Regions from separate parts of the Homo sapiens genome. Here region 2 is linked to region 1. The links come from fine-mapping of genetic effects on gene expression. A gene starts in region 1. The other region holds a variant in brackets. All regions are shown on one strand. Distances are between the middles of the regions.

The links. PIP is the estimated chance that this variant, and not a neighbour inherited with it, causes the effect.
Region 2: its variant is the best candidate, but not a certain one, in a credible set for the expression of GRHL1 in lung (GTEx, PIP 0.83).

The regions. Positions count from the first base shown.
Region 1 is chr2:9,949,157-9,953,366 of GRCh38, reverse strand. GRHL1 (grainyhead like transcription factor 1) reads right to left here and starts at 1,674. Exons shown (of 16, transcript NM_198182.3): 1 at 1,514-1,674. The coding sequence starts at 1,533. It overlaps LOC105373422 (a long non-coding RNA gene), which reads left to right and starts at 2,514. Exons shown (of 3, transcript XR_922784.4): 1 at 2,514-2,662. RefSeq lists silencers at 1,384-1,923, 2,014-2,063, 2,164-2,213, 2,364-2,443.
Region 2 is chr2:10,006,223-10,010,723 of GRCh38, reverse strand. No RefSeq gene overlaps it. Among named protein-coding and RNA genes, the nearest start is that of KLF11-DT, 35 kb to the left of the region's middle. The variant G/A (reference allele first, on the strand shown) is at 2,148.

The sequences.
Region 1 (4,210 bases):
ACGGCTGGTGCCATGGACTGATTGACTGATGTACTGCTAAGCTATAATTAATAGCGTAATAGCTACTTCCAGAAGACTATGACAGCACTTGGCTGTTCAATTCCCTTAATGCTAGTTTTCAACTTCCCTTCTTCTCCCACCCACATCCCAAATTTGTACAAGCAATAGAAAACAGAGAAAGAAATGGCTTTATGTTTGGAATCACCCTGAAGGTGTTTCATATTTCCAAAGCCTGCCTAAGGCCAAAATGTTAGCTTTGGAAAATTTGCCTTATCTAAACTATACGTCAAGAAATAAACACAAAACCAGTTGCCTTTCTTAGTCCACTTCCTCATGACAGTCAGGAAGTAGGCTTCAGTCGCCGAAGGCTCATCATCACTTTCAGGTGAGCCTTAAACTCCGCGTCTGCGATCTCTCAGACTTCTGAAATATGTTTCAGGCAATAATTTAACTGCATATTCTACAACATAAGAGTAATCCATTTAAGATACTCCATACAAAATATCTATCTCATCCAGAAAAAGAACACACTGACAAAAACCGATCCTTCACAAATAACTAAGAAACTGGGAGGGGTACCTATCTGCCTTAAACTTCCTGATCTGAAATATACTGACTGGCCTGGTGCGATTTCCCTGTTTTTTCTTTAGTAAGTTTTTAAAATTTTTAGGACAATTTTATATTTTCAGAAAAGCTGCAAAGAAAATACAGAAAACTCCCTCGCCCAGTTAATCCCCCATGCCTTATTACACTACCACCTCACATTTGTCGAAATACGCTTTTAAATCACACACTCTAAAAAGCATATTAGCTTGTACAGTACTTTCTCGTTTAACACCCGGATTTCAAAGTTTCATCCTCTTGATTCTCTCGAGCACTAAAAACACGGTAATCTGTAATTACCATCAATGATGCAAGTGGCAAAATAACTCCTACAGCCGTTTTCCCACTCATGCCGCCAGCCAGGGAAAAGAAAACGCCCGGACATCGGGGCACTTCAACCTTTCCCTACATTTCTGTTTTGGAGGTTCCAGCAGGTCGCCGAGTGACGAGCCTGAGACCACAGATTACCTGGAGAAGTCCACCTGTCCCGACGCGGCGCGAGCCCCACCAGGCTCCCGAGGCCGACCGGGCAGGAGAGGGGGGCGGGGAGGCCCGGGGGCGTTGGCTGCGCCCCGACCTCGCGCCGCACCCGACCGCGCCGGGGGCCCGGACCCCAAGGTGCGCGCCCGAGGGGACCCAACCTGGCCGCGGAGGAGGGGAGGAGGGTGGCCCCTCCGGTGTCGAGTTTCCCCGAGGACAGGGTCTCTCCTCCCGAGGCTCCGACCGAACAAAGAGCACGGCAGGGCTAAGGGGCAAAGGCCGTGGCGGCGTGGAGTGGACAGCGGCCCCCGGCTCGCGCCCCGCGCCCGCCCGCCCGCGCGGCCTCGGGTCTGCGCCCGGCTCGCTCGCTGCAGGTGCGGCCCCTCAGCGCGGCCCCCCCGCGGCGGCCGGACTCCTGCGCCTCACTCACTTGTCGTACTCCTGTGTCATCGCGCCCGCTCGCCGCTGCCGGGCCGCAGAACTGGACTTTCGGGTTGGGACAGTACACCCGATCCGGGGGGAGGAGGCGGCGGCGGCGGCTGCGGGTCCGGAGCGGCGGCCCCGACGGGTTGGGTTTGCTTTTCTCGCTCTGAGCCGGCTCCGCGCGGGCTGCGCGCACTGGGCGCCGGGCTCGGCCGCTCATTGGCTGGCGATGCGCCGGCTGGGGGCGAGGCCTCGGGGCTGGGAGGCCGGTCGCGCCTCCTGATTGGTCGGCGAGAAGAGCGCCGGGGCGGGGCTGACGGGGACGAGCGGCGCGGGGCGGGGGGCGGGGGCCGCGCGTTCCGCGAGGTTGCGCCCGGGACTGCGCTCCCGGGGCTGCGCGCCCGACTCGCGGCCGTACGCGCCTGCCCTGACAGGAGAGGGAGCGCTGCGGCTGCGGCGCGCACCCGCCAACCTCCGCGCGCACCGAGAGCGCCCCCGCTCGCGCCCCGCCACCGCCCCCGCCGCCCCCGCCGTCCCCGCCGTCCCCGGCCATCCCCTTCGCGACGAGCCCCGGCCGTACAGCCGCCTCCTTCTTCGCTCACTCAGGCCTCCGCGCCCCGTGCCCACATTGCCCGCTGTTCCGGCCCCAGCGCCCCGCGCTGCCCCTGCGCTCGCCCGGCGGGGGCGCCTCTGCCGGTCGCCGCGCTCCCCGGTCGCGCGTCTCACCTCTCGGTTCTCGCAGGCTGTCACGCCCGAGTCCCGTGGCTTCCCCCGAGAGCCGTCTCCGGAATGTCCCTTCTCCTGGCCCACCGCGGCCGCGCGCTTTTAGGATTTCTTGCCCTCGCAGCTCCCGCGGTCCCCTCGGCGGCAGTCCCTGGGGCTCCGCGATGTCTGTGCCCCGCAGCCTCCCGGGCGCCACTTCCCCGCGCGGCCGCCCCACGCTGCCCGTGCAGTCGCGCGCCCCGGGCCGGCCCCGGGCACCACTCCACCGCGACGGCCCCCACTTGTCCTTCCCGAGCTGCCGTCTTTCCCAGGGTCCGCTCACTGAGTCCCCACATGCCCAGCGTCGGACCTGACCCTCGGACAGGCGCGGCCCCAGACGCCGGGGACAGGGCAGTCAACAGAACAGACACAACTCCTCGCCTTCCTAGTTGGGGTAACGGGCAATACAAAAACAAGTAAATGGTGTGGCTGGTTGGAAGGTAAAGCAGGCAGGCCCTGGGGAGGCGGGGAGGAGCGAGGCTTTCAGGCTTGAAGGAGATGAGGGGCCACGAAGGTGGGACTGTACCTGAGGCAGGGACCCTGGTGTGTTTTGTGACCCTTGAGGAGACCCGGGTGGCTGGTGGGGCACAGGGAGGCGGGAGCTGCGGTCAGAGATAGTGGGCGCAGGGGAGCGGATTGAGCAGGGCCTTGCCGGCTTCCGTAAGGACTGTGGCTTTCCCTCTGGGCTAGGTGGGGACGCCTTGGAGGGGCTTGGAGCAGGGTAGTGACAGGGTCTCACATTTTAAAATAGTTCTCTGCTGCTGCGTGGTGGGGACCAGGTAGGAGGCCATTGCCATGATGCAGGCCGAGGGCAATAGAGTGAGGTGGTGGGAAGTGGCCGAATTCTGGATATGCTTTGAAGGTGGGACCAGCAGGATTGTCTGAAAATTGGATATGGGGTGTGAGAGAAAGAGAGAATCAAGGATGACTACAGCGTTTCCAGCTGGGCAACTGGAGGAATGATTTGCCATCCCCTGGGATACAGAAGACCTGGGGCATAGAAGATTTGGGGGAGAACGAGAGTCTGTTTTGGACGTGCTAAGCTCAAGATGTATGGGAGATAAAAATCCATGAATCAGGTGGGCTCCTGGGTACGAGGCTGGAGTGCAAGGGAGAAGTCTGGGCTGAAGCTCACATCTGGGCGCCGCCCACGTCTAGAGGCCATTTAAAGCCATGAGAAGGCAGGAAGGAAAGAGGATGGGACCCATGCTGGATCCAGGAGCCTCCGACACAGAAAGGCTGGGAGGAAGAGCCAGTGGAGGAGACAGAAGACGGGGACACCGAGGTCGGAAGCAATGGAAGCGTGGAAGCCAAGGGAAGGAGGTGAAGTGAGGAGCAGCATGAGGTCACAGGGCCCTCCTGCAGCCAGCAGTCCCTCCTCTGTGCCCTGGTCCAAGGCCTTCAGGGACCGGAATCGGCAGCCTCACTTGAGACCGCCCTTCGCAGTTTCTGTCCTCTGACCCCGGGCCCAGCACTGGATCCATGCAGCCTGTTGTTTGTTCTTACCACTAGTTTCCTGTTTAAATCATTTATTATTTTTTTCTTTTCCTTTTTTTTTTTTTTTTTTTTTTTGAGGCGGAATCTCCCTCTGTTGCCCAGGCTGGAGTGCAGTGCCGTGATCTCAGCTTACTGCAACCTCTGCCTCCTGGGTTCAAGCGACTCTCCTGCCTCAGCCTCCCAAGTAGCTAGGATCACAGGCGCCCACCACCACGCTCGGCTAATTTTTCTATTTTTAGTAGAGATGGGGTTTCACTAAGTTGACCAGGCAGGTCTCAAACTCCTGACCTCAGGCAATCTGCCCGCCTCGGCCTCTCAAAGTGCTGGGATTACAGGCATGAGTCACCGCGCCCTGCCAAATCAATTATGTTTTCTAAGCACGCTAATTTAAGAAAAATGCTAGTCAATAACAGCACAGATGGTCCCAAATAGGGTACAAGTCATC
Region 2 (4,501 bases), 57 kb before region 1:
CCCACCTGACTCGCCCACATGCACGCCTGCCCACCTCACTTGCCTGCCCACCTCACTCGCCCATACGCACGCCTGGCCACCTGACCTGCCCATACACATGCCTGTCCACCTGACCCGCCCATACGCACGCCTGCCCACCTGACTCGCCCATATGCACGCCTGCCCACCTGACTCATGCAGTTTGAGATGGTGCCCCGCATGGATATAGATTCCCAGGTACTTGGCAGAGCTTCACAGCCTGGCGTACTCAGGCCTCTAGAGTAAGTGGCCACCAGAGTAAGTGGGTCCTTGAACCTCAGCCCTCATGACGAATGACATTCAGGGAAAGCTGGGAGCACCGGCATGGTGTGGGGCTGGGGTTTCTGAGGCCTGCAGGCCTTGGGCACGACGAAGGCTCTGGTCCCACACCTGGCCCTGCTCAGGGGCACAAGGCCCCATGCCTGCTCTCCAGTGTGGCCCGTTAAACCCAGAGCAAGAAGAGGGAACGGGGTGGGAGTCTGCCAGCGACATGTGACTCATGTAAACTTCAGGGGCCTGGAATGATCTGGAGGCCAGAGCTGGAAGTAGGGGAAAGGTCGCAGCGTCGCGCCAGCTGTGGGGCTGTGGCCAAGGCCAGTGGGAGAAAGGTGGCCGGTGGCCAGCCGGGCCAGACACCCATAGGCCAGCCCTGGCCTGGCCGCCAGCCACCTGGGCCAGCTACACAGACCTGCGGACAGGCCTGGCCGGCTTCTGGTCTCTAGGGCAGGTGCAGACCAGCGTGGGGAGGGAGGGCCGTGGAAAGAGGAGGCCCCATGGTGGTGCCTCCCTCCTCCTGCTTGGAAAGGCTCCTCCAGGCCCCAGCCCTTGCTGTCCCAACAGGAGGGCATTCTGGGGCCATGCCAGGGTGCGATGGCTGAAGGGGAGGAGTTGGCTGGACAGGGGTCTGGTGGCTGTGGGGCCTCCCCATGGGGCCCCTGCTAACCGTCCGGCCCTCCTCACCCATGGGCAGGGGCTCATAGAGGAGAGAGGCAGAGGCAGGAAGGAGAGCAGCGGACTGTGCTCATCCCTCAGCTAGGCCTGTCCCCTCCAGGCTGCGGCCAGGACCGCACAGCCCCCACCGAACACAGGTGCGGGACGTCCGCCAGGCTTCTAGATTGTTTCCAGATTGCTGCTGAGTTTGTTTCAACAGCAGATGCGGAAGCCCGGCTGCTGCCACCGCATCCCAGTGCCCTTCCAAAGCCACCTGCTGCGGACAGAAGCAGTTTCATACACAGAGGATTCCAGAACAACCAGAGGCGAGCCCTGGACAGGGAGAGCAGGAGGGGCTCTGCGCACGGGCTTGGCTGGCAGTCGGTAGGTGTTCACCAGGGCAAGGGCAAGGGGGGCACTCTTGCCGGGGAGCTGTGCAGGCAGAGGTGGGCAAGGGCAGAGCCGTGTCCACAGGGACCCACTGGGAGCTGCCATCTCACACAGAGACAGGGTCCTGCCAACTCTGGATGCAGGCAGACTGGAGCTGGGGGAAGCCAGGAGAAGGAGATGGAGACAGATGTTTGCAGGTAGAGAGAGATCCAGGTCATCTTTTCATGAAAAAACCCAGCTTCATTGAGATATAATTCATATACAATGAACTGCACCTACTTCAAGTGTACCATTTGGTAAGTTCTCCCATCTACACTCCTGAAACTGTCCTCACATCAGATACCGAACATCTCCATCATCACCCTCAAAGGGTTCTTCAAGCCCCATTAGATACTCCCTCTCTCCCGCCCCGCCCCCATCCCAGGCAGCCTCCCATCTTTCTGTCGCCATAGATCAGTTTGCATTTTCTAGAGCTGTAGATGAATGGGTCACGTGGAATGTGTTCTTTTGGTCCGGCTTCTTGAGTTCCGCAGTTATTTTGAGATTCGTGTCTCTGTGTGGTCGTGGTTTGTTCCTCTCTTGCTGAGTGGTATCCACTGTATTCTTCAGCTCCTGCGGGAGCCTTGAAAACCAAAAGCCACAATCACATCAACACCCAGCAGCCTGGAAGCGCCGGGAGTGGCAGATCGGGGTTGGAGCTCCTTCGAAGGCTTAATCCTGAGAACTGTCGTTATTTCGCCGTCTGGCGGTTCCCTGGAGAACCCTACTTGCAAGCCTGCCCTCATTTGACCTGCCTGGGAGCTCCCCCC[G/A]TAAGAAAAGCCTTTTTCTCAAGGGGATTTGTCAAAAATGATGTGGAAGAAATTGCCTAATTTCATGGCTGAGGAGGCACATGGCCGTTGGAGCAGACACTGGGCTCACCAAAAGGCTTAGGAGGAAAAACTGGGCGGTGAAAAGTGCAGAGGTGCGTTCAGAGGCTCCAACGTGTTCCCGGGCTCCTAGGAGGCCGTGCACGTTCCCAGGCACCCGGGAGGCTGTGCACATTCCTGGGCTGTGGAAGTGCTCAGCAAGGACCTGGGGCAGCTGAGATCTCACCTCTGGGTGACCTTGACGCTCTGAGCAGCAGAAAGTGCAGGCTAGGGCAGAGATGCTGCTGGTCTGGCTGAGTGTTTAAGGTACCCCCATCACCCCACAGAGCCCTTGGCAAGGACTGGGAAGCTCTGGCGTCGAAGGCCATCTCTGTCCAATCATTAGCCACCCACCGCACTGCTGAATGGAGTTTGCAGGGTCCACACACAACACAGAAAGCAGACTCCAGAATTAGTCCAGAGAAGTCACTAACCAAACAAAACTGCAGCCACAAAACCTGGGTAAAGGGAGAATCTGATTTCCACAGTAGCCACATTATGTTACCTAAAATGTCCAGTTATTAACAAAAACTTACCAGACATGCAAATAAACAAAAAATTATGGCCCATGCACAGGGGAGAAATCAACAGAAACCTCCTGAAATATCCCAGAGACTGGATTTATTAGACAGAGACGTTAAATCTGTTGTTTAAAACATGCTAAATAAACTAAAGGAAAGCATGTCTAAAGAATTAAAATATGAGGACGATGATCTCACTGCATAGCACCTCTGCGTCTGCAGGCCAGAGCCACCCCACCCTCCAAAAGTTGCCTGCAAACAGCTACCAGATTAGAAATCGGTCTGAGGAGGCACTAGGAGCCCCCTCAAGTCCAAGGGAGCTGGAATGAAAGCAGCAGTCAGCCTGGCCTCCGAGGAGGCGGTGGCTTCAGGCAGAGGGGGCAGTCCTCAGGCACTGTTGAGCTGGGCACACCCTGCTTTAAGGATAGATCCAAAAGAACAGAAATGACAAAGAGCCCGGCGCAGTGGCTCACATTTGTAATCGCAGTCACTCAGAAGGCCGAGGCAGGAGGATTGCTTGAGGCTAAGAGTTTGAGACCAGCCTGAACAACGTAGTGAGAACCTGTCTCTCCAAAATAATAATAATAATAATAATAATAATAGTAATAATAAGCTAGGCTTGATCCTGTAGTCTTAGCTACTTGGGAGGTTGAGGCGGGAGATCTCCTGAGCTCAGGAGTTCATCAAGGCTGCTGTGAGCTATGGCCACGCCACTGTACTCCAGCCTGGGTGACAGAGCGGAAAAAAAAAAGGGGGGAGTTGGGTATTGGGTGTGGGATGGAACCTGGAAAGGCACAGCCTTTGTACACCGTGCAGGGCTCTGGGGACAGTCGAGAGATTGCCACTCTGTCTGCTGCTGTGACGAGTCACTGCCCACAGCCCTGGGGATGACGATCCTGCCTGGTCAGCCCTGCCCTGTCTGCCTGAAGGTGCCGGAGCAGCCTGAGGGCGGGGTTCTCCTCTTGTTTGGTCTCTCCCTCAGGGGATGCTTCCAGAGGGGCTACTGGTCTCAGGAGCAGCCTGGCAGCCTGGCAGCCTCACCCCCAGCCTGCATGGCCCGCAGGACATTTGCTTTCTCTTATCAAGACCAGCCCTGTGAACAGAGCCAAGTGCTTCGTGTGGGCGCCTGGCAACTGAGCCACCCTGCTGGCTGCCACGCTCTCCCTGTGCTCCGTCTGCAGTGACAGGGGAGGGACTCCACCAACCCACACAGGCCCGATGGTGAGAGGTGACAACCTGCTAGCAGCCCTCGCTGGCTCTCGGCGCCTCCTCGGCCTCGACGTCCGCTCTGGCCGCTCGAGGAGCCCTTCGGCCCGCCGCTGAGCTATGAGGGCCCCTCTCTGGGGCTGGCCGAGGCCGGAGCCGGCTCCCTCTGCTCCCGGGGAAGTGTGAAAAGAGAGGCGCGGGCGGGAGCCAGGGGTGCGCGCGGCGCTCCTGGGCCGGCGCGGGTTCCGGGTGGACGCGGGCCCGCGGGCCCCAGCACTAGGCGTGCCCGGCTGGCGCCTGCTGGGCTTGATTGGAGGCTGGGTCCCGTGCGTGGACCGCCGTTCCCTCTTCACGGGGTCGTTGGCCACGATGGCGGGTCTCCGTCTTTCTCGCTTCCCCTCTTTTCCTCTTGGTTGTCGGGGACGAGCTCCCTCTGGGCTGCCGGAGTACCTGGGCTAGGTGCCGCAGAGTCCCCGGCGAGTGACAGTAAGAGGTGAAGCGGGCTGGGCTGCCGGGACAGGTGAGGACTTG